Linked DNA regions of Homo sapiens. The protein of the gene in region 1 interacts with the protein of each later gene in a biochemical or structural test. Each region holds a gene or a part of one and is shown in the gene's direction. Other genes may lie near its edges. The genes, in order: SELP, CD24, EZR and AP1M1.

Evidence for each region.
Region 2: the proteins of SELP (region 1) and CD24 form a complex in vitro, tested with the Homo sapiens proteins (2 studies listed by BioGRID and IntAct).
Region 3: the proteins of SELP (region 1) and EZR form a complex in vitro, tested with the Homo sapiens proteins (one study listed by BioGRID).
Region 4: the proteins of SELP (region 1) and AP1M1 are reported together in a solved structure, tested with the Homo sapiens proteins (one study listed by BioGRID).

What each region holds. Positions count from the first base shown.
Region 1 is NC_000001.11:169,620,104-169,627,128, reverse strand, and holds part of SELP (P-selectin precursor), read left to right. Parts: intron 1-7,025. UniProt on the Homo sapiens protein: Ca(2+)-dependent receptor for myeloid cells that binds to carbohydrates on neutrophils and monocytes. Mediates the interaction of activated endothelial cells or platelets with leukocytes. The ligand recognized is sialyl-Lewis X.
Region 2 is NC_000006.12:106,971,706-106,978,940, reverse strand, and holds the start of CD24 (signal transducer CD24 isoform a preproprotein), read left to right. Parts: upstream 1-4,211; 5' UTR 4,212-4,294; coding exon 4,295-4,363; intron 4,364-4,901; exon of another isoform or gene 4,902-5,055; coding exon of another isoform or gene 5,056-5,271; intron 5,272-7,106; coding exon 7,107-7,235.
Region 3 is NC_000006.12:158,781,363-158,788,387, reverse strand, and holds part of EZR (ezrin), read left to right. Parts: intron 1-1,184; coding exon 1,185-1,280; intron 1,281-2,804; coding exon 2,805-3,079; intron 3,080-3,660; coding exon 3,661-3,744; intron 3,745-4,721; coding exon 4,722-4,868; intron 4,869-7,025. UniProt on the Homo sapiens protein: Probably involved in connections of major cytoskeletal structures to the plasma membrane. In epithelial cells, required for the formation of microvilli and membrane ruffles on the apical pole. Along with PLEKHG6, required for normal macropinocytosis.
Region 4 is NC_000019.10:16,207,902-16,214,926, forward strand, and holds part of AP1M1 (AP-1 complex subunit mu-1), read left to right. Parts: intron 1-117; coding exon 118-248; intron 249-1,128; coding exon 1,129-1,276; intron 1,277-2,458; coding exon of another isoform or gene 2,459-2,494; intron 2,495-7,025. UniProt on the Homo sapiens protein: Subunit of clathrin-associated adaptor protein complex 1 that plays a role in protein sorting in the trans-Golgi network (TGN) and endosomes.

The sequences.
Region 1 (7,025 bases):
AACTCTCATATTCACCTCCCCTATTTGCATTCCCACTGATGCCAGACCAAACCTGTCCCTCTTTAACTCTCACTGGGACCATTGCAATAGCCTCTTCTTTTGCAGTGCAATCTCCCTGATTGTAACTCATTTAAAAAAAAAAAAGTATCGCACTACTCTCACCCCTATAATATCAGCATTTTTGGAGGCCAAAGAAAAAGTATTGCTTGAGCCCAGGGGCTCCAGGCCAGCCTGGGCAATATAGTGAGAACTTATCTCTACAAAAAATTAGCCGGGTGTGGTGATGCATGCCTGTAGTCCCAGTTACTCAGGAGGCTGAGATGGGAAGATCACTTGAGGCCAGGAGGTGGAGGTTTCAGTGAACCCAGATCATGCCACTGCACTTCAGCCTGGGCAACAGAGCAAGACCCTGTCCCCCAGCCCCACAAAAAAAATCATACCACCATTAAGTGCATGTGTTCATGATACTTCTCTGTTCAGAAGTATCCCTTCTGCCAACTGGTATTTGTGACCCACAAGATATGGTCTCAAACTACCTTTTCAGTTAACCTCTAGGATCTCCCAATCTTCAGCAGGCTGGAGTGCAGTAGTGCCATCTCAGCTCACTGCAACCTCTGTCTCCTGGGTTCAAGCGATTCTCCTGTCTCAGCCTTCTGAGTAGCTGGGATTACAGGCATGCGCCACCATGCCCAGCTAATTTTTGTATTTTTTAGTGGAGTTGGTTTCGCCATGTTGGCAAGGCTGGTCTTGAACTTCTGACCTCAAGGGATCTGCCTGCCTTGGCCTCATAAAGTGTTGGGATTACAGATGTGAGCCACCGTGCCCAGCTTCCGTTGGCTTATCATTGCACTTAGAATAAAATCTCATCCCCTTGTTTTGGATCCCAAAGCCCGATGTGATCTGTCACTACCCCCGGCTCGTATTTTTCTCTCCATTGCTCATTCCATTCTGGCCACACTAATGTCTTCATGTTCTTTGAACACACTGCAGTTTGCTTCCACCTTAAGGCCTTTGAAATAGCTTTTTCTTCTTCCTTTAATGCTCTTCTTCCTGCTTCTCACTGGCTGGTTTCTTGCAGTCATTCTTCTCTCCACTTAAACATTATCTCATTAAAGAGGTCTTCCCTGACGTTCCTGACCAACATAGTGACACAGTCATTCTATCACATAAGTTTCATTTCCTACCTAGCACTTATGGCTATATTCTGTTAATATTTTTCATGTTTACTTGTTTAGTACTGTTGTGTAGTTATTAGTATTTGTTTCATTGTCTTCTCTACCAATAGAATGTGCATTCTATGAGGACTGGAATTATGTCTGTTTTCACCATTTTATTTGTTCACTTAGCTATTATCACTACTGTAAAAGTAATGCATTCAGTTATAATTATTATGTATTTTTCCAACATTTTCTTATTTAGCATATTTTTGTCTTACTTTCAGTTATTCCTCTGCCATTATTCATTCATATATTTATCCATAAAATGTTTATTGAGTATTGAGTATGTGCCCTACCATGGCTGGGGATTCAGACCTGAGTAAGTAATAGTCCTTGCCCTTGAGAAGCCTCTGTCAGTAGCTTCCTCAGCTGTATGCTCACATGTTTGTTGCGCATTTAAATTGTGGACCTCCTGCTCAAGAGAATATTCAGAAACGGAGATGCTGATTAGAGGACATTGGAAACAGATGACCATAAGGAGGTCATCTTTACTTCCCAGGAAAGCAGAAGAATGAGAAGAGAATAGGGCCATGGAGGTGGGAACCTAGAGAAACACTTACCTCTGCAAGGGAAGGCAGAGGATTGAGGTAGATTCAGAAGAAGACTCAGAAAAGTTTCTCAAACATTAGAGCAGAAGAACAACAGAAGAGCTAAGGGAAGCATTTTAGGCAAAAGGAAGTAGTGGTATTTACTGCTACAGAAAGGTCAAGGAAGATAAGGGTGGAAAGTCTTCATTTGGTTTGGTAATGAGGATGTCAGCAATGAAGTTTGCAGGGACACTTTGATAGGATGGTCGGGCAGTGGGCTGGAGAGTAAGGGGGAGGCAAGGAAGTTAAGAAAGTTTAGCTATAAGAGGAAGGAGAGAAACAGGCAGATGTGGGCAGGAGGACAAAGGGTCAAGGGAGGGACATTGTTTGATTCCGCCTTTCTAAAAGCACAAAGCTGTGGTCTACAATGTAGACAAAAAGAACAAGATCTCCTTTCTGTGGCACTATTCTTGCCAACTTTGTAAGCCACCTGGAACGTGGCAAGCCATGGGACACCTACTAGCCTCTGGTACCTCCTTGTGTGAAAAGTTAGGTCAAGGCATTTGCTTCTTCCACTTTCTCTCTGCTTTTCTCTTCACCCTGCAATCATTATTAGTTTTTTTGCTTGTTTGTTTGTTTTGTTTTTTGAGAAAGAGTCTCACTCTGTTGCCAAGGCTGGAGTGTCTCGGCTCACTGCCACCTCTGCCTTCTGGGTTCAAGCGATTCTCCTGCCTCAGCCTCCCAAGTAGCTGGGACTACAGACATGTGCCACTATGCCTGGCTAATTTTTGCATTTTTAGTAGAGACGAGGTTTTACCATGTTGCCAGGCTGTTCTCGAACTCCTGACCTCAAGTGATCTGCCCACCTTGGCCTCCCAAAGTGCTGGGATTAGAGGCATGAGCCACTGCACCAGCCCAGTTCTTTATTAAAGTAAAATTAAAGATAATCATGGTACTTAATGAAGGCTTACACAGGCACAGGATGTTATTCTAATGACCCAGTCTCTGACTCCTTTCCAGCAACTTCCAGTTGAACCAGCCTTCCAGAGAACATTAAAGACTAGCAGAGCATGTGGATGCTTCTAGAGAGGAATTTCCTCTTGTTTTAGTATTTAACTTGCTTAGTAACACAGGACAGAGCAGCATCCTGCAGACTATAATGCAGAGTAGGAGCAGGTATGAGAAGGCCTGCCCACCCCAAGCAGGTTTCAGAGGAAAACTGTTACTCAAAGAAGATTTTTAAACATCATCCATTCTCCATACCTCCACACAAAATCCCTATCAGTTGCCTTACAGTTAACACAGAATCTTGAACTTGGGCCACATTAAACATGGACAGACTTAGTAGGTCATGAACCATCTGAGATTCTCTAAACTACTGCAAGCATGCATTTGTTTTGAAGAAATCTGACCACGGCTTTTATCAGATTTTCAAAATTCATAAGCCCTGGAAGAATAAGAATAACTGTGTTAACCCTATGCACATTCATGTGAGCAAGCTTGGGCAAATCATTTACGCTCACTGAGTCTCAGTGGTGGGGAGTGGTGGCTGCCCCATCTTAGGCATTCGAAGTCTGAAAGACTTCCTGCAGAACAGCAGATAAATGCTAAGTTGGCTTGGAAGTGACCTTTATGTTCTCCTATAGCTCTGAAATAACCTGTAAGAGGTGAATCTTGGTATTTGGTGATGCATAGAAACAGAAAAGTATGTCAGATTAAAGCAGGGGATGCACACTGACTTGCATTTTCCTTTCTTAGATGTTGTGCCTTCATCAAAAGCACTGTACCAGTCCTCTAAAACCTTCAAATGTTTAAAACAAGTTGTCTCGCTCTCTCTCACTTTGTTTTATCTTGTGTGGTAGAGAATTTGCTGATGAAATTTTGCTTAAAAAAAGTTCAAACAAACAAACAAACAGGTTAAAATGGGAAACATCTCTTTTTGGAAATTTTGTTTAAACCAAATCTTATTTAAAAGTTTAAACAAACAAGTCAAAGCAGGAAACAGTGGGTAGGGTTGGCCACTGTGATGGGAGACTGGGAGCCTCACCGACTCCTTCGCCCTACACACTCTTGTGAGCTGGCCCCAAAGCCAGGGAAATCCCTAGAAATACTCTGTTCAGGGAGAAAACCACTTCCACAGGAAGAGTACCACTAAATTTAAAATCGTTGCACTCCTTCTGCAATCTGTCTGAATAGAGCAAAGCCCAGGTTCAAAGGCAAGCACTCAGGTCCCCTTCATGAAGGCTGCAGAGTTGTGCTCTTCAGCAGCAATATTTTTGCTCCTATACCTCCAAAAATATCCTGGAACACTATGTTACCTCTTACACCTTTCTAAGTGGAAAGCTACAATTTTTTATCCCAAATTTTAAAAGCAAAAGAAGATTGGATTTTCCAGTGTATTACAAAAATTAGACTGTAAAAATAAAATTGTTACATAATTTCTTAAAGTTTATCCAATGGAATAAAGTACTAGCATGATCTGCAATCCTCATCACTTAAAAGACCACAAGCAGGCTCTTAAGAAATTTTATATTATTCATTTTTCTCTCCTTGAATAGTTATTTCTATCCCACTTCTACAGTATTTAGCCTAAGATTACACATTTTAAGCTTAAAGTATTTTCTTGATTATTATACTTCTTTGCAAAATAAAAATATAAAATTTCAATTTTCTACAACTGTAAGTCTCTATGTGTTAAAATGTTTTTCTTTTCTATTGAGTTAGCATGACAACTACTTTCAGTACACAATTAAATAAAGTAAATATACTGCAAGTTTTGACAAGTAACTTAAACCTTTATATTTAAATTGCTATTAAAGATTCATCTCTAAGACAGGAGGAGCTTTCCCTCATTTGTTCATATATCCATGAATGAATATTACTTATCAACAAAATTAGACAAGTTTGGCATCAATATTATTCCCATATTTCATTTTCAAGGATTTAAACATTGAGAAACTTCATTCATATGAATAAGTAAATGGAATTAGAAGTTTTATTATAGCAATGTCTCAATTCCTTGAAGTCCTTCCAAGTTATATGCCCCAAATTATATAGTGATTTACTATCAAAATTTAGTCAGACTTGACAACTTAATCGGGTGCTCCCTCAAAGCTGATGAAAGGAAATAAATGGAAATCACTAGACTTGAAAACGGATTTGCTGCAATATCATTTACAATATTCAAATTCTTAATACCTATACCAATATTTCGAATCATCTCTGGCATACGAATGTATTTATATCCAAAGGCAAAGCTCTGGAATAAATAAGAAATTAGTAAAAGGTATAATTTTTCTCTTATAAAGTGGGAGAAAGGTGTATTTTAGGCAGATTGTTTTTAAGAAAGTATATATGTGAAAGTTGAGAATCTGAATACAGATTTAATTAACACTCTCTTTGCTTGTGAACCCCTTGGGAAGTCAGCCTTATCCTGGTTTGAAGAATTCCACTTCAGCATTTGGAATGGTGCATTTTGAAATGTGATAGGAAGAACAGCTTGTGACACAACACAATTCAGAGAAAGCAGTGGGGTTAGGTTCGCACCAAAGGGTTATCGATCACTCTGCATTTTGTGCAAATAAACAGCTGTAAATCATAACGTTATGATACTCTCAGTGTTTAATCATAGGTCCTGCAGAGATCAGCAGCTTATAAGAACACAAAATATGCCTACTTACCAAAGTCAAGATTCAGAAGCTCCCAGATGAAAAGTTCTAGGCTTATGAGATAACTCTACTCTCTGGGACACATTAACTGGTTTGAGTTGAGTTCTCCCTGGTATCTGGTCAGGCTGTAGTCAAAAGTGCATGAACACATGCACACACATGACCCCACACTGTCCCATGCACCCTACTGGGCGTGACACATACACAACCCCACACTGTCCCATGCACCCTACATAATCCATCACTGGGCGTGACACACACACACACACACACACACACACACACACAACCTCACACTGTCCCATGCACCCTACATCATCCATCACTGGGTGTGACACACACATACACACAATCCCACACTGTCCCATGCACCCTACATCATCCATCACCAGGACATGATACATGAACACACACACAACACCACACAGTCCCATGCACCCTACATCATCCATCACTGGGGTGTGACACAAACACACACACACACAACTCCACACCATCCCATGCACCCTACATCATCCATCACTGGGGCATGACACACGAACACACACACAACCCCACACAGTCCCATGCACCCTACATCTCATCACTGGGGTGTGACACACACACACACACACACACACACAACTCCACACCATCCCATGCACCCTACATCATCCGTCACTGTGGCATGACACACACATACACACAGAACCCCACACTGTCCCATCCACCCTACATTATCCATCACTGTGGCATGACACACACACACACACACACACACACACACAGAACCCCACACTGTCCCATGCACCCTACATCATCCATCACTGGGGCATGACACACGCATACATACACAACTCCACACAGTCCCATGCAGCCTACATCATCCATCACTGTGGCATGACACATACACACACACACACACACACACACACACACACAACCCCACACCGTCCCATGCACCCTACATCATCCATCACTGGGGCATGACACACGAACATACACACAACCGCACACCGTCCCATGCACGCTACATCATCCATCACTGGGGCATGACACACGAACACACACATAACCTCGCAGCAAATTGTCACAGACCAAATTGTGGTCTGAGGCAATTTGAGATTTCTTTACAGGAAAGGTTTTAGGTAGCAGTCTGGCTGGGATAGTGACAAAACTGCAAATGCATAGCAAATGCACTGTTTTTATGTTGATAGTAATGTTGAGTGGCTTTAGAGGGGAACTGATGTAGCAGCTAGGCTTGGTCATGTCGCATGCTTTATCATCCAAAACAGCAATGCAGCATGGGATTTAGAAGCCTGGAGGTTAATGAAGGTTAAAAAAAAAAAAAAAAAAAAGTACAGTGGAAAGAGCTCTTTCTTGTTTCAAAGTCAAGCTCTGCTACTGTCATTCTGAACGTGTTATTTAGATGCCCCAAGCTTCAGTATTTTCATGTGCAACATGAGGAAGTCGGACAAGATGAGCATCACTAGAACTTAGATGCCCAAAAACATTTTTTGTTGTTTTTTTGAGACGGAGTCTTGCACTGTCGCCCCGGATAGAGTGCAGTGGTGTGATCTCCGCTCACTGCAACCTCCGCCTCCCGGGTTCAAGCGATTCTCCTGCCTCGACCT
Region 2 (7,235 bases), on another chromosome or scaffold:
TTTTGCCAAAAGTGCTAAAAATGTCAAATAATTAACCCCTGTGTCTTCTGTTCCTCTAGAAACAGGATTTACTATTTTATCTTAAAAAGCAAATTAACCTGTTTCCTTAATATTAGTCCATTCAACCAGCAAGGACTGATTGCATGCCAGGTGCAGTGGATATTGGGTAGGCAAGACATAGTCTCTCGGGAGGCTAAGACAGGAGAATGGCTTGAACCAGGGAAGTGAAGGTTGCAATGAGCCACTGCACTCCGTCCTGAGTGACGGAGTGAGGCCCTGTCTACAAAAAAAAAAAAAAAAAAAGAGAAAGTGGTGGTGCAGGATTCAAATCCATATTTGACCCCAGAATCCACTATGTGCTATGCCAGTCTGGTCTCAGGTCTGCCCTTAGAAATTGTAGGCATTTTCCGGGCACGGTGGCTCATGCATGCAATCCCAGCACTTTGGGAGACTGAGGCGGGCGGATCACCTGAGGCCAGGAGTTCGAGACCAGCCTGGTCAACATGGTGAAACCCTGTCTCTACTAAAAAAATATAAAAATTAGCCAGGCATGGTGGCAGGCACCTGTAATCCCAGCTACTTGGGAGGCTGAGGCAGGAGAATCGCTTGAACCTGGGAGGCAGAGGTTGCAGTGAGCCGAGATCGTGCCATTGCACTCCAGCCTGGGAAACAAGAGCAAGACTTCGTCTCCAAAAAAAAAAAAAAAAGAAAAGAAATTGTAAGCATTGCTCCTCCCTCAGTATTCTCAGAAGAGAACCAGCATCAAATGAGGGAGTTTTTCATACTATCTCATGAAAGCTATGAAAACTGAAAGTTATAACTTTCCACACATACATCAATTTATGCAATCAATCTGTTTCAAAATCATTCTATACCACACTTTCTCTATAAAATGGAAATTGGCCATGTGTCTCAACAAAAAGTTCAGGATAACTGGTAAGAGTCTCAATTTGTTAGTGGCGTGAGTTATTATTGGCTAAGGTTTTTTTTTTTTTTTTTGAGACAGAGTCTTGCTCTGTCATCCAGGCTGGAGTGCAGTGGCACGATCTTGGGTCACTGCAACCTCCGCCTTCTGGGTTCAAGCGATTCTCCTGCCTCAGCCTCCCGAGTAGCTGGGACTACAGGCGTGTGCCACCATGCCCAGGTAATTTTTTGTATTTTTAGTAGAGACGGGGTTTCATCATGTTAGCCAGGATGGTCTCGATCTCCTGACCATGTGATCTGCCTGCCTCGGCCTCCCAAAGTGCTGGGATTATAGGCGTGAGCCACTGCACCCAGCCGTGGCTCAGGTTTTATTAGCAAACAAACTATGAAAAACCAGGAGAAGTGGATAAAGAATAGGAAGAAAGAATCACAAGCCAAAAGAACTGCAAAGGAAAAATCAGGCAGTTTTCTTGAGTTTCTAGCTGTACAGGAAAAGGGTAGGGTGGAGACCTGTAAAGAGAAGTATCTTACCTGTGTTGGGCCTCCAGTTGTCAAAGTCCTGGGCAACACCCCCGGTAGGATGCCCAGGGGGAACTCCTGGGCAGAGGTGAAGGGCTTTGCTACGTGAATTATCCAGTCTCATTAGCTGGTGATGAAATGGTTCACAAAGCACAGATTCTGAGTGCCTTGCCAGTTTTGGGAATTATTTGGAGACTGATATTCTTTCACGTATCACACAGTGGCAGAGAAGGTAATTACCTTCTGGTTGCTGGCACCTTCAGTGGAAGAGCAAATATTAAGTGAGAGCTACTACTCTGAGGCAGGCAGTATTCTAACACTTATATATACAATAACTCTTTAATAACTAATTAGTAATGATGTTATTATCTCCATTTTATAGATGAAGGAACTGAGGCTTTTTGTCTCCAGCAAAATTAGCAGAGCCACGGTTTGAACTCTGGCAGTCTGTCTTTAGAGGCTGTCTTATCCTAGGAATACCACCAGTTAGTTCAACAAGCAGCTTGTGGAGGACATAGTATGTTCCTTGCCTTGGAACCCGGCACTCCTGAGTCACAAACAGTCCATTTTTTTCACCCGGAAAAGGAATGGAGAAGCTGGGCCAGACTATTTCTTTTTTCTTTTTTTTTTGAGACAGAGTTTTGCTCTTGTTGCCCAGGCTGGAATGCAATGGCCTGATCTCTGCTCACTGCAACCTCCACCTCTCAGGTTCAAGCTATTCTCCTGCCTCAGCCTCCCAAGTAGCTGGGATTACAGGTATGAGCAACCATGCATGGCTAATTTTGGATTTTTAGTAGAGACTAAATTTTAGTAGAGACTAGATTTTAGGTTTCACCATGTTGGTCAGGTTGGTCTGGAACTCCTGACCTCAGGTGATCAGCCCTCCTCAGCCTCCTAAAGTGCTGGGATTATAGGTGTGAGCCACCACGCCCGGCCAAAGTATTTCTATATAATGTGGTACACTGTTAAACAGGAAAGTCCACTGGTGCTCGACAGAAATTCTTGTGTTCCCAAGCACATCTTAAACGTGCTTGGAAAGTTACTGAGCTAAAGTGACTGACCTTGAAGGCACAAACCAATTCAGTCACTATTCAGTCAACAAACCTACTGCAGATTTCATTGTCACTTTGCTTCCCTGAAACTTACTTTGTTTTAATGAGACTGCCACGCAAAAGTGAAATTTAGACAAATTTAGAATCTTACTACTCTGTGGTTTACTTTAAAGACCGAAAAATGCTTGGGCTAAACCTTAAATAAAAGTATTAAGTCTTGCAATTAAAAATTGAACCAAAAATACTAACGAGAGTGTTCTGCAAAACTGAAATTTAAACAAATTTACAACCATACTAGGTTTGGTCTCTGCTGTTTGCTTTAAAGACTGAAAAACACTTGGGCTAAACCTTCAATAAAAAGATTAAGTCTTGCAATTAAAATTTAAACTCAAAATACTCCACCAGTAAAATTACTTCAACTTTTGTTGTATGCTTGAAAGTTTTCACAATAAGATGGATAGGAAAAAAGTATTCCACCAAAATCTAAAGAGTGATGACGAATCTCCTCTTTGTGCCGGTTCATTAAATTGCCTAATGGCAACTACGGATAAGTAAATGCCTTTATCTCGAACGGTTCTGCTCTTTAAACGAATGACGGGCAACAGAGACCGAAAAAGTGTATCCCCAGGAATTCGAGAGGGACGGTGAATTGTAGTGGGACCGCCAGGAGGGGAGGTTCCTGCCCCCGAGTAGAACCTGGGAGCAGAGCCGCTCGGGGAGGGCGGTGGGGGCTTCAGGGCCGCGGAGGGGGTCCCCTCAGGGTGGGCCGTCTCCTCCTCGCCCGCCGCAGGCAGGAGCGCGGGGGACCGAAACCCTGTAGTTTGCAGCGTCAGGCAGCGGGTCTGCGCCCAGCGAGCGGCTCCCCAGCTCCTGGGAAGATGCGGACCCGGGACGCCCCCGTGAGCTCACTGCGCCTGGCTGACACGAGGCGCTCACAGAACAAAGCAAGGGCTTCGGGGAGGGCGCGGCCGCGGGGCCGAGCGCGCAGATCGCTCCGGACCCGGACACCGCCTGCGAGGAGCGCCGACCAGCCGGGAAGGGTTCGCGCTAGGCGGCGCCCGGGTCCCGTCGGCCAGGGTGAGCGTCCGGCCCGCGTCCGCGCCACGCCCGCCGCGTTCCCCTTTCCTCTGCGGCGGGCCGAGAGATAACCCTGCCCGAGGGGTCCCGGCGCCCGCCCCCCACGCGGTCGCACTGGAATTCGCAGCCCCTCTCGGGTCCCCGGGGCGCATTTTGCAGTCTGAGTGGCAATGCACTTGCTCCAGGACAGGCGGCTACCCCGCCGCAGCGGAGGCGCGGACTTTTCTTTTGGGGGGTAAGATGGCAGGTCCCGGGAAACAAAGGAAACTTGGGCCCGGCCCCCAGCGCGGCGTGTGTGGCTCGCGTGTGTGCCCCGGGTCCTGTGCCGGAGGCGCTGGGCGCCTGTGCCAGCCTGCCCGCAGCCCGCAGCCGGCGCGGGGATACCAGCCGGGTACCAGCAGCCGGCGGCGCCCGCCCACCTGCAGCGGCGCCCGCCCGGGGGGCTCCCGGCCCGCGAGGGCCGGAGCGGCGGTGGCAGTGGCGGCGGCGGCGGGGGCGCTGGGGAACCCGGAGCGGGGCGGGGAAGGCGGGGAGGCGGCGGGCGGCGGCGGAGGGGAGCCGGGGTGGGCGGGCGGCGCCACGTCACGGCTATTGTGGCTTTCCTGGTATATAAGGTCTCGCCGGCTCGCCGCGCTCCCCACCTTGCCTGCGCCCGCCCGGAGCCAGCGGTTCTCCAAGCACCCAGCATCCTGCTAGACGCGCCGCGCACCGACGGAGGGGACATGGGCAGAGCAATGGTGGCCAGGCTCGGGCTGGGGCTGCTGCTGCTGGCACTGCTCCTACCCACGCAGGTGAGGCCCTGGCGCCCGGCGGGGCTCGAGGGCCGTTCCCGGGGTGGGGGCAGGGGAGATGGACCCGGTCCCGGGGGACCGTCCTGCGCTCCTGCCTCGGGCCACGGACAGGGACCGGGAGAGAATCTTGCTTAGCTGACCAGGGGAGAGGGCCATGTGGACCCCATTTTTCCATTCCCTTGCGTGCTGCCCCCCCTCCTCCCACGGCCCTGGGAACAATGCAGCTCCGCGTGCGGGCTGAGAGGACCCTGCCCCACCCCAGGTTCCACGCTGTCCCTTCCCAGGCAGCCAGGTGACTACTTCCCACTTTCACCCAGAGGCCCGAGGTGCCTGCAGGGATTAGCGCCTGGAGAGCTCGGGCTCCCTGGGGACGTTGTCCCTGGGTCCCTGAGGACTCGCTTTCCCCTAGGAATGTCTTCGCGCTCCCCGCGCTCTACACAAAGAGAGGCGACGGTCCCTTTCGGGGAGGGCGGCTCACGCCCATCCTCCACCCTCGGAGTTGGATTGGGTATCCCGGAGAAGCTACGGCTATCTGGCCCTTTTTAAACAAACCCCGGTTCCGGGCTGAAGCCGAGGCGGGGACCCTCTCCTGACGCTGCGCTCTCTGCGAGGCAACCTTTCACGTCCATCGCTTGTCATCTTAGGATCCCCATGTTATTTTAGCCCAGATTGGCTAGTTCTGGGGAGGCAGCATGGTGGGACGATTCTGTCCCGAGTCCCCGCCAGGCTTTGTTCGGGTCGCCGCTACCAGCGCGGTCTCCCTAGATCCTCCATCCGGGGAACCTCGCCCCGGGTGCGGGTACCCGGGGCCGCGCAGCGCTGCCTCGAGGGTGTATGGATGCACCGCGCCGGCGAGAGAGACCGGGGGCTGGGCCTGGGAGACCCTAGCGGGGGCGGGGGCGAAGAAGGTACGTTTGTTTGGGTCAGTTCGGGTTTGGAGGATGGGAGTGACGGCTCTCCAGCGCCTTCGATTGGGGTTAATCGAGGACTGTCACTGGGGCTTCTCCCCCAAAGTTGGGCGCGCTGCGTCCTCCGTCCCCAGACATCGAAAGTCCGGGCTCACCTGGGAGTGCAGCCTGAGTGTGGAACGCGCTTCCCCACCGCTGGCGGGGTAACCGTACCCTATTGTCTTCCTCCCAGTCCGCTGCGCTCCCGAGCCTTCCTCAATTCTTTGATGGGGGAGGGGCGCGGCTGCGAGAAACCGGCCCCCTCCACTCCCCGCCCCATCTTCTCTCCGACCAGATTTTTTTCCTCCAACATTGTAAGTGAGAAGTTTTAATAATGCGAATAAATCTAGCTTGGGAGAGAAAATTTTGTTTAGTGTCAGTTTAATAAACATAATTTTTTTGTTGGTGTAGAGGATCTTTAGATCCTCAGATTGATACACCAGGTTTTAAAAAGAAAACATCACCTGCTGCAGTAAAACTCATTGCATGAATAAAGAACAGGTTACTTTGCGGGATCCCAAACAAGGTGTCCAAAACAGGCACCCTGTTTTAAGTAAATTACCATATTAATGCTTTTCTTTATTGGGAGTGCCGTTTCCTGATGGGACACACTAAATCTTGCACACAGTAGGTGCCCGATAAATAAATTTGACTTGATCAAGATTTTTTTGTTGTTGTCACTAATCTATTTTGGATAGGATTTGTACATTTCTGTAGTCAATATTTGTTTAATGACCTTATGGATTTTACAACAAAAGGAGCTGGTGCTGATGTAGGAGGGCTTTATCTTTGGATTAATAGGCAGCCAAATGTACACGGGGCCCAGACTCTTGCCTGGTGCCACGTCCTCCCTCCAGCCTGTAATCAGAAGCTCTTGTAAACCCTCCCTTGCAGTGAGGGCTGAAAACTCCGATCTGCCTTTGTTCCATGACAAAGGAGAGATTATCACGTGCCCTACTGGACTGTGCATTTCGTGGCTTGAAAAATCAGTGGTGAATGATGCCACTCAGACGCTGGGACACTGGGAGAACCTTGGTTCTTGGCCACAGCAATGAGCTTGGCGACCAGTGAGGCTGCTGCTGGTGAAACTTAACACCATAACCTCTCGTTGTCTTTTGTGAAATCGTTCCGACTTCATGGTGTTTTCTTGAAGTCATTCTGCCTTAAAGGAAAAACTCATTTTCTTTTTCAATTTAACACAAATATTGTGGCCATTTTTTAGAAGAGTTACTATTTCAAATTTCAAGGGAGAAGATAAGACTGCATTTCCCCCTTAAGGAAAAGGCTAAGTTACCAAGGCTGTATTAAATTGAGTATGTGAAAGTTACCTAGCAAATCCAGGATAGACAGTGACCCAATGAATTCTAGTTCCATAAGTCTCAGTTACAATATTTAAAAATCCCCATTTTTTTGTGCAACTTTAAAATCTCCCCCTTTCTGGGAAAATAGACCTTATTGCAATGCCATTAAGTCAATATAATCTTGGAAACTGAATTAGTTAACCTGGTCCTTTTTTCCTTTGCAAAGAAATAAAAACAGGAGTTATAGTTATTGAATAACTTTTTTGTTCTTGTTGCCACTTGGCATTTTTGAGGCATCTCTAGGTAGTTTGTTTTGAAACTAAAGAGAATGACCTTGGTGGGTTGAGCAAGAATTCAGAAGTTAATGATGTTGGGTAAGAGAACAATGGTAAGAGAGCAATCTAAGAATATATCACCTACTTTAATTTTATATGAGAGTACATGGAGGTAGCTGTGATGTGGAAATGTATCCATGTAACTTTTTATGTATTTTAGATTTATTCCAGTGAAACAACAACTGGAACTTCAAGTAACTCCTCCCAGAGTACTTCCAACTCTGGGTTGGCCCCAAATCCAACTAATGCCACCACCAAGGCGGCTGGTGGTGCCCTGCAGTCAACAGCC
Region 3 (7,025 bases), on another chromosome or scaffold:
AGTGTGAGCCACCACGCTCAGCTTGCAGCCTTCCCCCATCCCTTTTGGGTGAGTGGGAAGAGGGGGAAGAACAGGTCAGTCCTGGGCATTTAATAAACAGACTTCTAGAGCTTTAGGGAGCCTCTGGCCTCCCTGCACCCTTCAGATGAAGAAACAGGCCCAGATCAGGAGTTAATTTGGAATTTTAGGATTTACTTTAAGCAAATGCTCTGTATACCTGAGTTGTCATTTCTAATGTATTCAACCCTCTTTGGCATTAAATATGATAGAAGCCATGTATTTGAAGGATGGTAGCATTTTTTAAAGTTTAACATTATATATCATGGGATTTTAAATTAGACATCTATGTATATGTAAATAGTCGAACTTGTCTGGGACTCGGTTTAGATGATGTTCAACAAATGTCCACAGCAAGTTCGACTATCACTGCTTTTCTGTTTACAAGACAGTCGTGAGACTAAGCAGCTCAGGACTCCTGTAATGCACAACAGAGGCTTGAAAATGTGAAATCTTTGCTGTGACCTAGGGTCGGGATTCTACCTTTGCTGTATCAGAATGTCCCATTTCTGGAGGTCTATAAGATGCAGGTTCCTCTGGGCACCCCTGTGCATTGACACCCTTCCGTCCCAGAAGTCTGCCTTGCCTGTTTTCCTGCCTTTCCTAGGATTTCTTTGTCCCTGTTCCTAGTAAGTCAGACCCCTGGGCCAGCTGGCTGAGAGGCAGAGGCAGGCAGCCAGAGGAGGCTCAGGTGTGGCACTGGATGCTTTAGTCTTCTGCATGAGCACACCTGACCGGCAGCGATGCACCCACCGCACTGTTCCCTGGGGGGCTGTGGGCTCCCATGGTTCTGTGTGTGCTGGCCATAACCCGCCCTGCTGAGTTTCATGCAGGAGAGCATCCTGGAGTACAAAGGAGTAGGAGTGAGATTTTCTAAGATTTGAAGGTAGAACCCTGAATCTGCTCAAATTTATATTAAAAATAAGTCGTTCATGGCTTTGAGATAATAGCCTCAGTTAGTAACAAGTTATTTGAGTGCAAAAAAAGATGTTGCCCAGTGGTTGGACTGAGCAGATGTCCTGGTTTCCTGGGGACTCTGCTAGACCATGTGATGAACGACAGCCAAAAGCTGTTGCCCTTTTGAGTGAGTTTCTCATGAGTGTTGAGCCTCTCTCTCTCTCACGCAGGTGGTAAAGACTATCGGCCTCCGGGAAGTGTGGTACTTTGGCCTCCACTATGTGGATAATAAAGGATTTCCTACCTGGCTGAAGCTGGATAAGAAGGCAAGTCAGGATTAACTATTTACAGGCTGTGGATTGGGTGTTGGTCTGCTTCATCGATAAGGAAACTGGAGCAACTCACCCTGTCTTTTGTTTTCTGTTCCTTTTTGTTTGTGTAAAAGTTTTTACAGACAAAAAGGTTGCAGGTTTCCAGTAAATGGAGATATCGATTGGAAATCAGATCTGGCATTTCTCCATAGTGCTCACTCATTGGAGCATATGATGGTTAATTGCATAGCTTTTAGTTGACCTTAGTTTTTTCAATGAGATTGTTAATCTTATAAACTGTGAATCATCCACCATCTTGTAAGAACCTGTTATTGCTTTGTTTGAACCTGTGACAGATTATCTTCCAACTTTAAAGAGTGGATAATTCCATTAACCAACCAAAAAGAAAAGTAGTAAGATAAACATTTTCTTCAAACTCTGAAAATTATCCTTTTTTTTTTTTTTGAAACCCCCACTGTCCTCCCAAGTCACAGCAACAAGTTAAAAAGATGATGGGAGGTGGGGAAGAGTGGAGGAGCAGGAGGAATTCTTAACAGTAAGTTTCGGGGTCCAGGGCCCGATTGGCATGTGGCCCCATTCCAGGTCACTGGGGTCATTTCCAAATTTGAGTTCTCCAGGATTGATAGCATCATCCCATGAGGACTGGGGCTTAGTGAGGCAGTAGCTTTGATTTCCAGCTGAGCACAAGAGTGTGATAGTACTTGTTTGTTTTTTGTTGTTGTTGTTTTGAGATGGAGTCTTGCTCTGTCGCCCAGGCTGGGGTGCAGTGGCACGATCTTGGCTCACTGCAACCTCCACCTCCTGGGTTCAAGTGATTCTCCTGCCTCAGCCTCCCAAGTAGCTGGGACTACAGCTGCATGCCATCATGCCCGGCTAATTTTTTTGTATTTTTAGTAGAGATGGGGTTTCACCATGTTGGTCAGGCTAGTCTCGAACTCCTGACCTCGTGGTCCGCCCACCTCAGCCTCCCAAAGTGCTGGGATTACAGTCGTGAGCCACCATGCCTGGCCTGTTTTTTTGTTTTTGTTTGTTTGTTGTTGTTTTTTAAGAAGAGACAGGGTCTTGCTCTGTCACCCAGGCTGGAGTGCAGTGGCGCCATCATAGCTCACTGCAGTCTCGAACTCCTGAGCTCCAGGGTTCCTCCTGCTCAGCTTCTTGAGTAACTGGGACTATAAGCATGCATCACCATCCCCAGCTAACTTTTTTTTAAAAAATGTTGTAGAGATGGGATCTCTTCTACGTTGCCCAGGCTGGTCTTAAACTCCTGGGCTCAAGTGATCCTCCTGCCTTGGCCTCCCAAAGCACTGGGATTATAGGCATGAGCCACCATGTCTGGCCTGTGGTAGCACTTTTGACTAACCTTTTTTTGTCTGGAGTGCTAAAAAGATGACTTTAAGAATAAATATCTCCTGAAAACTGGCTTGAGGGCCCCATTGAGTCTTGGTTAGAAGCCTGTGTTGGGGACAGTGGGCCTTCGTCTTCCGGATTTGTGTGGAGAGTGTGGCTTGTTTCGTGCAGGTGTCTGCCCAGGAGGTCAGGAAGGAGAATCCCCTCCAGTTCAAGTTCCGGGCCAAGTTCTACCCTGAAGATGTGGCTGAGGAGCTCATCCAGGACATCACCCAGAAACTTTTCTTCCTCCAAGTGAAGGAAGGAATCCTTAGCGATGAGATCTACTGCCCCCCTGAGACTGCCGTGCTCTTGGGGTCCTACGCTGTGCAGGCCAAGTTTGGGGACTACAACAAAGAAGTGCACAAGTCTGGGTACCTCAGCTCTGAGCGGCTGATCCCTCAAAGGTGAGCACAGGATGACCCGGCCTGGGCAGGAGCAGTCATGCCGTCCTCGGCAGGGAGAAGTGATTGCCTTAGAAGCACAGTTTAAAAACACAAGGACTTCGCCAGTGTCAAGTGCTCCTTCATGCTAGTCATTAAGTCACTGACCAGCGACCTGAAACATAGCCAGGGAAGGCGAGCTGCCATTCCTCATGGAAACTAAAGCGTGGCCGTGTCCTGTGGGACATGGCATAGCAAACTTCTCGACCTGACTGCTCAGCTCCTCCTGGGGTATGATAGGTTGCCCCTGTGAAATCTGTTTTTATTTAGTAATGGTCACAAAAATTACCCCATTTGGAAGAAGAGGCCACTTAAAATACCTCTTAGTTTTTCCAGCAGAACTGAGTTCTTGTTCAAAATGCTAAGTCTTCCAGATTAACTGTCATAAATAGAAATGCTGCACATCAGGAAATAGAAACCAAAGCTCTTTGGGATTGATTGATTTGAATGGAAAGTAAGGGTTTGAATGTGGGTGGTAAGTGGGCCTCCTTCCTTGCCTGTCACATTCCTTAAGGATGACAGTGCTGTTTCCTTTTGCATTCCAGAGTGATGGACCAGCACAAACTTACCAGGGACCAGTGGGAGGACCGGATCCAGGTGTGGCATGCGGAACACCGTGGGATGCTCAAGTGAGTGCTGTGCCCTGCTGTTGGGATCTTGCCATCTCCGTGCGCTCCAGCATGTCTTTTCCTGTGACTCTAGTTAGTGCTTTAAAGGGCTCTGTGTCAGGCCTTGTGAAGACCTTGAGGGAACCGAGTTAAAAGTGGGGTTTTCTTAGGGAAGAGGTTTTTTTTAAACAAAGCCAGGTGTCTTGCCTGGGGAAAGAAGCAGTTTAGCTCAAGCCTTCAGGTTCTAAAAGCTTACACCCTCCCTTTGTAGAAAGTGTTGTGTCTAAACTTCATCTTAGTCAGAGGGGCATTGTTCACCTGCAATCAGCATTATTCTGTCAAAGAGATGCTGGTTTGCTCATTATATGAAGGTACTTGTCTTACAAAGTGTATATAAATGAAAAAGGATCCCAAGTGAGAAATGCTGATGTCAGAGAACCTGGACGTGGGGCTGTTAATGTAAGACATGGCCGAGCCACCTGATTCTGGGTGTTCTCGTCCTAGAGCCTTGTCTCTGGCCTAGTCTTGCGAGTCTGCATTATTTCAGCCTCTGAAGTTTGTTTGAGGTTTGAGCCTCAGATTTTGTGCTTCAGGGTTTCCTGTCTGGCCCAAACATCCTTTATGGAAGGAAAACAACTCAAAGCCTATGAGGAGGGTTGTGGGAAGACATGTGTGGGCAAGAGAAAAAGGAGGATTGTGCTGAGTGATAAAACTTAAAAACCTGTTAGAGAAACCAGTGTGAATCAGTTCTTCTTCAAAGTGTGGGGTTTGGTGGTGAGGCTCCAGGGCAGCACGGACCCCACCCCAGGCATAGCTTCTGGGCTGTATGGGTCCCCTCCTCACCGGTCGGCTGCCCGGCCCCTGCCTGCCTGCACGCAGCACACAGCATTGAGCCCATCCTACACAAGGCGCCTTAATTTAAAAATACTGGAAAGGTTTTACTGTTCTAGATATTGAGTGCTACCAGTGACTCTGCCTGTTTCACTCTCCCCAATTAGAGATAATGCTATGTTGGAATACCTGAAGATTGCTCAGGACCTGGAAATGTATGGAATCAACTATTTCGAGATAAAAAACAAGAAAGGAACAGACCTTTGGCTTGGAGTTGATGCCCTTGGACTGAATATTTATGAGAAAGATGATAAGTGAGTTGAAGTTCACAGTTATCTTCAGTAGGTAGGGTGGTGGGCCTGGAAACAATGGCAAAATGGCAAATTTGTGGGTTATTTTTGAAGTATTTATTTAGCAACTTACTATCCCAAAGTAGGAAACTTTTTAAAGGGCTTTTGGACTGCTGTGGCCCTCTCAAAGGGTGGTCCAGAGGTGTGGGTTATCCTCTCTCATGGTGGGCGGGGCCGATAGTGGGCTCAGTCCTGGTAGAGGAAGGCAGAATAGAGCAGAGGCTGCCTCTCCTCCCCGCTGCCTCTGAGATTCCACCCCAGCTGCCTGCAGGTACCAGCACATCCATCCATAGCTACTTCGCAGGCAGCCCAGCCAGTGCTCGACTCCTGGCTCGAGGTTTGTGCTAATCCAACCAAGAATATTGATGGTGTGATGAGAGACTTGAAAAGCTGTAAACAATAGCCTGTACGTGTAGACACTTGAGCTAAATGCTGGGAGTCTGCAGGAGATATCTTAATTGCCTCGCATTAGTTACGTTGTTTGTTGAGTGAGGGCCTGTAAGCAAGCTGGGTAGAGCAGCAGAGCCAGGCCTCTCCACAGGGACAGGCAGTTCCGCTTTCACATACAGGGCATTTGCCTTCTTTCTGCTGAGGATAAACAGGGAAAGTCATCCTAGTTCATGAGGGCAAGTTTCCCATGGTGAGTCTGCGACATCAGCATAATCCTAGATTCTGGATTGATCTGATCAGAAGCTACCTGAATTTAAGAGGCAGAAGGAAACTACCTCTGGAAAGAGAAGGGAGAGGCTCCTGACTGCCTCCTGACTACCGTCTCTGCCCTGATTGTCCACAGTCAGCCTGATTGCTCTGCAGGGCTCCCCGAAACAAATCATCTGATGGCCACCAGGTTCAGGGGCCTGGCAGAGAAGGTGCCAGGGCAAGAATGCTCCTGGGGTCTTTTTGCCAAGCCCTGCCTTTTGGCCTGGGTTCCTGCTTTCCACGTAAAGAGCAGAGTGGCCCAGAGTTCCTGGATGTACCGGTTTCCTTCCCAGCCTCATGCTGTTCCTTGAAATGACAGCTCTCCCCATTTCCCACTTGAGGCTCACCCATCTCATCTGTTCTCAGATATTTTTGTTCTCAGCATCCCCACATCTCAGGTTCCCCCAAAACCCTCTCTGGAGTTCTCAAAGGGAGTGGTGCTGCTTTCCACAAATGACCTGCATGAGTCCATCTCCATTTGCAACCACGCGGATTCCTGCCAGACCCCAGGGCACAGATCTATTTCACTTGGGCAAGTCAGGGACCTGTGCCAGCTGTGCCCAACCTCCTCTCACCTCCGGGGCCCACGTGGTGATACTGCACAGGGAGGGAGGCAGGCGCTGTCACAGGAGCTCCTCAGAGAACCTGGAAATGAGATATTGAGGACTCTCGGTTCGCTCCTACTCCAAGTGTGCTGGATGCAGCATTGGTAAAGAAGCACGGAAAAGCCAGGCACAGCGGCTCACACCTGGAATCCCAGCACTCTGGGAGGCCGAGGCAGGCGAATCCCTTGAGCTCAGGAGTCTTGCCCAGCCTGGGGAACATGGCGAAACCCCGTCTCTACCAAAATTTAAAAAATTAGCTGGCTATGGTGGTGCACGCCTGTGGTCTCAGTCAGGTGGCTGAGGTGGGAGGATCACTTGAGCCTGGGAGGCAGAGGTTGTAGTAAGCCAAGATTGCGCCACTGCACTCTAGCCTGGGTGACAGAGCGAGACCGTGTCTCAAAAAAAATTTTAAAGAAGTGGGGAAAGTGGGTACTTGGAACCAGGACACCATCTTTCCGGGAGACCCTAGAGCTGAAGCCGTGGCTATTAAGACAGCCATGCCAAGGAGCAGTGCACAAAGTCCTCGTGGGAACGTATGTGGGAAACTGCCTCTGCCTTGGAAATCTCTTCAATGACCAGATTTTGTAACGTGGCCAGGCCAGGGCTGTCCAAACAGGTTTTTCAACCTGCAGGAAAACAGCCATGGGCAGGAACTTGCTGATGTCAGCTTGTAACTGCCCCAGCCCACGTAAGTGTCCATTTCTTCCAAGTAAAAACGTGAGCTGTGTGCCCTATTTAGTGCTGTTTTTGCGCTCTGCTCCCCCTCCCCCACCATTGAGCGATGAACGTGGCAACTCTCTCAGATGGTTCTTTCCCC
Region 4 (7,025 bases), on another chromosome or scaffold:
AGTAGGCTGTTGGTAGGACTTAGCGGGCAAATGAATGTGTGCAAGCGTTCATTCATTCCTCATCCGTCCGCTCAATGATCTGCCTCCCATTCCTCCCTCCCTCCCCAACCGCCACAGGTGTTTTCCGAGTACTTCAAGGAGCTGGAGGAGGAGAGCATCCGGGACAACTTTGTTATCATCTACGAGCTGCTGGACGAGCTCATGGACTTCGGCTACCCCCAGACCACCGACAGCAAGATCCTGCAGGAGTGAGTGGGCAGGGGTGGGGCCTGGGGCCAGGCCTGGGCGGTGTCATGACATCGACGTCATCAGGTGTGGAAACAGAAGGGGCAAATTTGTGTTCATGTTGTCCCCCACCTGCCTCCCACCTCCAGCAGTATTCGGGTTTTTACTAAGTTGCTCTTAGTGGTTTTAATTCGTTTCCTCCTCTACGCCCCCACATAACCGTGCTTTTCCTGCTCCTCATCTTTACTCTCCATCCACACAGATGCCTTCAGTACCTTGCTACTAAGGAGTCACCTCCCTTGTTTTTACTGTCATAAAATGAGACTGTGATCGAAATCTCCCCTCTTTGGAATCCTGCCCTTCAGATAAGAAGCAATGTGAATTAAGTGCTTCCTGGGGGCCGGGCCCCAGCACTTCACATTCACTCGATTCACAGCCTCCCCGTATACCGTCTCCCCATTTTACAGGGGACAAGCAAGCAGACTCCCAGAGAAGCCTGTGTTCCTAACCGCTGCACCTCCTGCTCCTTCAGCAGGATGGGGTCACCAGGTTACACTCCGAGGCGTCAGTTCCATCCACGTGCTCAGCAGGGACGGGAAGCAGCTCACACCCACTTCTTGTTTTCCTTCCCAACATGGTCTTCTTGGTCCCCCAAAATGAGCACTTCAGCCTCTATAACTTGAGTGTATTGGCTTTTGGAAATTGTGAAGATTTTTCTGTATGAAGCAGCCCCAGGTGAACCAGAGGCTGCCTTTTCTGGAGCTGCTGAAATCCAAGGGCTATTTTCAAGTCGGTCAGAACCTGCCCTGTACCCCCCACCCAACCCTGCCGAAATGTCAAGGCCAGAAGCTGTGGCGTTGGTGCGGGTACCACCTCCTTCACTCTGAGCGTGTGGCCCCACAGGTACATCACTCAGGAAGGCCACAAGCTGGAAACAGGGGCCCCGCGGCCACCAGCCACCGTCACCAACGCGGTGTCCTGGCGGTCCGAAGGCATCAAGTATCGGAAGAATGAGGTGTTCTTGGACGTCATCGAGTCTGTCAACCTCTTGGTAGGCCTCTTTTCTTTCCTTCTTCTGTAGGGTTTTATCTCTTCCACGATAGAAATAAACACAGCATTTTAAAACTGGCAAAGCCCCGAGAGCCGTTCTGTGTGGTAACAGATAGCAGGATTCAGTTTGGGCCACTCATTGAAATGTGAGTTTGTCTTATCTTTTTTTTTTGAGACGGAATCTCATTCTGTCGCCCAGGCTAGAGTGTGGTGACACGATCTCGGCTCACTGCAACCTCCGCCTCCCAGGTTCAGGCGATTCTCCTGCCTCAGCCTCCCGTGTAGCCGGGATTATAGGCACCCGCCACCACGCTCGGCTAAAGCTTGTTTTCTTTATTAGCATTTATGCTGACTGAGAATCCATACATGCACATTATTTTTAAAAATTAGAAGCAGGGTATGAGGTTAGAAAGTGAAGGGCTCTTATCAGTCACCATGCACAGAAAAAAAAAAAAGAAACTAAAGGGCTCCTATAATCAGAAAGATTAGGATTTATTCACCGTCACCCTCTCGGGCCTCATTCTGTAGACAGACAGAAACAAGTATATTGATTTTTCTATAAACCTGAGATCATAAGATGTGGTTCTCCTGCAGCTTGTTTTTTTGGTGGTGGTTGTTGTTTGGGTTTTGATTTTGCGTTCAGTGTTACTGTTTTGTATATTTTTTTCTTTTGGTTTTTTAATTATGAGGAAAGTTGACGTTTTGAAAATGAATTTTAGCGCTTGTACAGATTTGTGTACCCATCACCACACCCAGGACACAGAACCTCAAAACCTCCTCATGTTGCCCCTTTGTAGCTCCATGCTCCCCTCTTCCCCATTTCCTGGCCACCATTGAACTGTTCTCCATCACTGGAGTCTTCATCGTGTTGTGATTGTCACACGAGTGGCATCATATGTCACCGCAGCTGTCTTTCTGAGATTGTCGTATGAATGGCGTCATACAGTCATGAGCTCTCGAGTCTGGCTGCTTTAACTCATTCTAATTCTTTGCGATTCATCCAAATCCAATTGTTTTGCATATCAAAAGTCTGTTCCCTTTTATATTTATTTATATTTATTTTCTGTTCTGAACCACAGAAGGACATTTGGGTGGTTTTCCAATCTTTGGCAATTGTCAATAGAGTTGCTAGAAACATGTCGTGTCCAGGTTTATGTGTGGACATAAGTTTTCATCTCTCTAGGGTAAATACCCAGGAGTGGGATGGCTGGGTCACACGGTAAGTGTATGTTTACCTTTATAAGAAACTGCCAAACCATTGCTGTTTTGCATTCTCGCCAGCAACAGATGAGGGTTGTGATGACCCCACATCCTTTGTCAGTAGTTTTATTTTTGTCATCCTAATAGGTATGTAGTAGTATGTCAGCACAGTTTTGTGTTTTGTTTTTGTTTTTGTTTTTGAGACACAGTCTCGCTCTTGTCGCCCAGGCTGGAGTGCAATGGCACTATCTCCATTCACTGCAACCTCTGCCTCCCAGGCTTAAGCGATTCTCCTGCCTCAGCCTCCCGAGTAGCTGGGATTACAGGCACCCACCACCAGGCCTGGCTCATTTTTGTATTTTTACTAGAGACGGGGTTTCACCATGTTGGCCAGGCTGGTCTCGAACTCCTGACCTCAGATGATCCACCCGCCTCTGCCTCCCAAAGTGCTGGGATTACAGGTGTGAGCTACCACGCCTGGCCTATTCCATTTTCTTAATGGCTAATAATGTTGAGCATTGCTTTACATGTTTCTTTGTCATCTGTATATCCTCTTTGGAGAAATGTCTCTGTGCATCTTTTTAGCATTTTTAAATTGGGTTATTTTCATATAGTTGAGCCTTGATAGTTCTTTGTGTGTTCCAGATAGAAGTCCTCTGTCAGATAGGTGATTTGCAAGTATTTTCCCCCAGTCTGTAGCTTATCTTTTTATTCTCTTAGCAGTGTTTTTTTTTTTTCGACAGAGTCTCACTTTGTAGCCCAGGCTGTAGTACAAGTGGCATGCTTGGCTCAGTGCAACCTCCACCTCCGGGCTTCAAGTGCTTCTCCAGCCTCAGCCTCCCAAGTAGCTGGGATTACAGACGCATGCCACCATGCCCGGCTAATTTTTGTATTTTTAGTCGAGACAGGGTTTCACTATGTTGGTCAGGGTGGTATCGAACTCCTGACCTCAGGTGATCTGCCTTCCTCGGCCTCCCTAAGTGTTGGGATTACAGGCGTCGGCCACCATGCCCAGCCCCCAATACTATATTGAATAGGAGTGGTGAGAGAGGGCATCTTTGTCTTGTGCCAGTTTTCAGGGGGAACGCTTTCAGCTTTTGCCCATTCAGTATGATGTTGGCTATGGATTTGTCATAGATGGCTCTTATTATTTTAGGTATGTTCCTTCAAAACCTAGTTAGTTGGCTGGGCATGGTAGCTCCCGCTCTACTAAAAATAGGAAAATTAGCCGGGCGTGGTGATGCGCGCCTGTAATCCCAGCTACTCGGGTGGCTGAGGTGGGAGGATCACTTGAGCCCCAGAGGTAGAGGTTGCAGTGAGTCCAGATTGTGCCACCGCACTCCAGCCTGGGCGACAGAGCAAGACCCTGTTTCAAAAAAAAACAAAAAACAAAACCAAAAAACTCCAGTTTGTTGAGAGTTTTTAACATGAAGAGATGTTGAATTTTATCAAAAGCCTTTTCTGCACCTATTGAGATGATCATGTAGTTTCTGTCTTTAGTTCTATTTATGTGATGAATCATGTTTATTGATTTGCATGTATTGAACCAACCTTGCATCCCAGGGATAAAAGCCTTCTTGATTGTGGCGGATTAGCTTTTTGATGTACTGCTGGATTCAGTTTACTAGTATTTTGTTGAGGATTTTTGCATCAATGTTCATCAAGGATATTGGCCTGAAGTTTTCTTTTTTTGTTGTATCTCTGCCAGGTTTTGGTATCAGGATGATGCTGGCCTCATAGAATGAGTAGGGGAGGAGTCCCTCCTCCTCCGTTTTTTTGGAATCATTTCAGTAGGAATGGTACCAGCTCTTCTTTGTACGTCTGATAGAATTCAGCTGTGAGTCCGTCTGGTCCAGGTTTTTTTTGGTTGTTAGGCTATTTATTACTGATGCAATTTTGGAGCTCATTATTGGTCTGTTCAGGGATTCAGTTTCTCCCTGGTTCCATCTTGGAAGGGTATATGTGTCCGGGAGATTATCCATTTCTTCTAGATTTTCTAGTTAGTGTGCATAGAAGTGTTAATAATAGTCTCTAAGGGTTATTTGTAGTTCTGTGGGGTCAATGGTAATATCCCCTTTGTCATTTCTAATTGTGTTTATTTGGGTTTTCTCTCTTTTCTTAATAGTCTAGCTAGCAGCCTATCTATCTTATTCATTCTTTTAAAACACCAGCTCCTGGCTTACTTGATGTTTTGAATGGTGTTTTTGTGTCTCAGTCTTCTAGAGTTCAGCTGTGACTTTGGTTATTTCTTGTCTTCTGCTAGCTTTGGAGTTGGAGGCTTTTGCTTCGTGAGTTCTTTTAGTTGTGATGTTAGGTTGTTAATTTGAGATCTTTCTAACTTTTTGATGTGGGCATGTAGTGCTGTAAATTTCTCTTAACACTGCCCTAGCCGTGTCCCAGAGATTCTGGTCTGTTGTATCTTTGTTCTTATTTGTTTCAAATAATTTCTTGACTTCTGCCTTAATTTCATTATTTACCCAAAAGTAATTTGGGAGCAGGTTGTTTAATTTCCATGTAATTGTATGGGTTTGAGTGATTTTCTTAGTTTTGAATTCTATTTTTATTGATTTGTGGTCTGAGAGAGTGGCTGGTATGCTTTTGGTTCTTTTGCATCTGCTGAGGATTATTTTATGTCCAATTGTGTGGTGGTTTTTAGAGTATGTACCATGTACAGATGAGATATATTCTCTCGTTTTTGGGTGGAGAGTTCTGTAGATATCTATCAGGTCCAGTTGATCCAGTGCTGAGTTAAGGTCCTGGATATCTTTGATAATTTTCTGCCCCAGTGATCTGTCTAATACTGTCAGTGGGGTGTTGAAATCTCCCACTGTTATTGTGTGGGAGTCTAAGTCTCTTTGTAGGTCTCTAAGAACTTGCTTTATGAATCTGAGTGCTGCTGTTGGCTGCATATTTATTTAGGTTAGTTAGATCTTGTTGAATTGAATACCTTACCATTATGCAATGCACTTCTTTGTCTTTTTTTGATCTTTGTTGGCTTAAAGTCTGTTTTGTCTGAAATTAAGATTGCAACTCTGCTTTTGTCTGTTTTCTATTTGCTTGGTAGATTTTTCTCCATTTCTTCATTTTGAGTCTGTGGGTGTTATTGCATCTGAGATGGGTCTTTTTTTTTTCTTTTGAGACAGAGTCTTGCTGTGTTGCCCAGGCTGGAGTGCAGTGGCGCAATCTCGGCTCACTGCAACCTCTGTCCCCCAGGTTCAAGCAATTCTCCTGCCTCAGCCTCCCAAATAGTTGGGATTACAGGCACGCGCCACCACGCCTGGCGGTTTTCTATTTTTAGTAGAGACGAGGTTTCACCATGTTGGCCAGGCTGGTCTCGAACTCCTGACCTCAAGTGATCCACTCGCCTCGGCCTCCCAAAGTGCTGGGATATTACAGGCATGAGCCACTGCACCCAGCCAAGAATGGTGTCTTAAAGGGAGCATATCATTTGGTCTTATTTCTTTATCCAGCTCTTGCCACTCTATGCCTTTTAATTGGGGCATTTAGCCCATTTACATTCAAGGTTAGTATTGATATGCATGTATTTGATCCTGTCATTGTGTTGTTAGCTGTTTATTATGCTGACTTGTTTGTGTGGTTGCTTTATAGTGTTACTTGTCTGTGTACTTAAATGTGTTTTTGTAGTGGCTAGTAATGGCCTTTTCTTTCCTTTTTCTTTTTTTTTTTTTTGAGACAAAGTCTCACTGGGTAGCCCAGGCTGGAGTGCCATGGCGTGATCTTGGCTCACTGCAACCTCTGCCTCCCAGGTTCAAGTGATTCTCCTGCCTCAGCCTCCCGAGTAGCTGGGACTACAGGCGTATGCCACCATGCCCAGCTAATTTTTTTTTGGTATTTTTAGTAGAGACAGAGTTTCACCATGTTAGCCAGGATGGTCTCGATCTCCTGACCTGACCTCGTGATCCACCTGCCTTGGCCTCCCAAAGTGCTGGGATTACAGGCGTGAGCCACTGCACCCGGCCTTTTTTTTTTTTTGAGATGGAGTCTTGCCCTGTCACCCAGGCTGGAGTGCAATGGCATGATCTCTGCTCACTGCAACCTCTGCCTCCCTGGCTCAAGCAATTCTCCTGCCTTAGCCTCCCGAGTAGCTGGGATTACAGGTACCCACCACCATGACCGGCTAATTTTTGTATTTTTAGTAGATATGGAGTTACACCATGTTGGCCAGACTGGTGTCGAACTCCACACCTCAGGTGATTCGCCTGCCTCAGCCTCCCAAAGTGCTGGGATTACAGGCATGAGCCACCACACCCGGCCTTCTTTTCATATTTAGTACTTCTTTCAGGAGCTCTTGTACAGCAGGTCTGCTGGTAAACAAATTCCCTCAGCATTTGCTTGTCTGAAAGGATCTTTTTTATTCTTCTTTTTTTTTGAGACAGGGTCTCATTCTGTTGCTCAGGCTGGAGTGCAGTGGCATGATCATGGCTCACTGCAACCTCTACCTCCCTGGCACAAGCTATTCTCTGGCCTCAGCCTACCAATTGGCTGGGACTATAGGCAGGTACCACCACACCCGGCTAATGTATATGTTT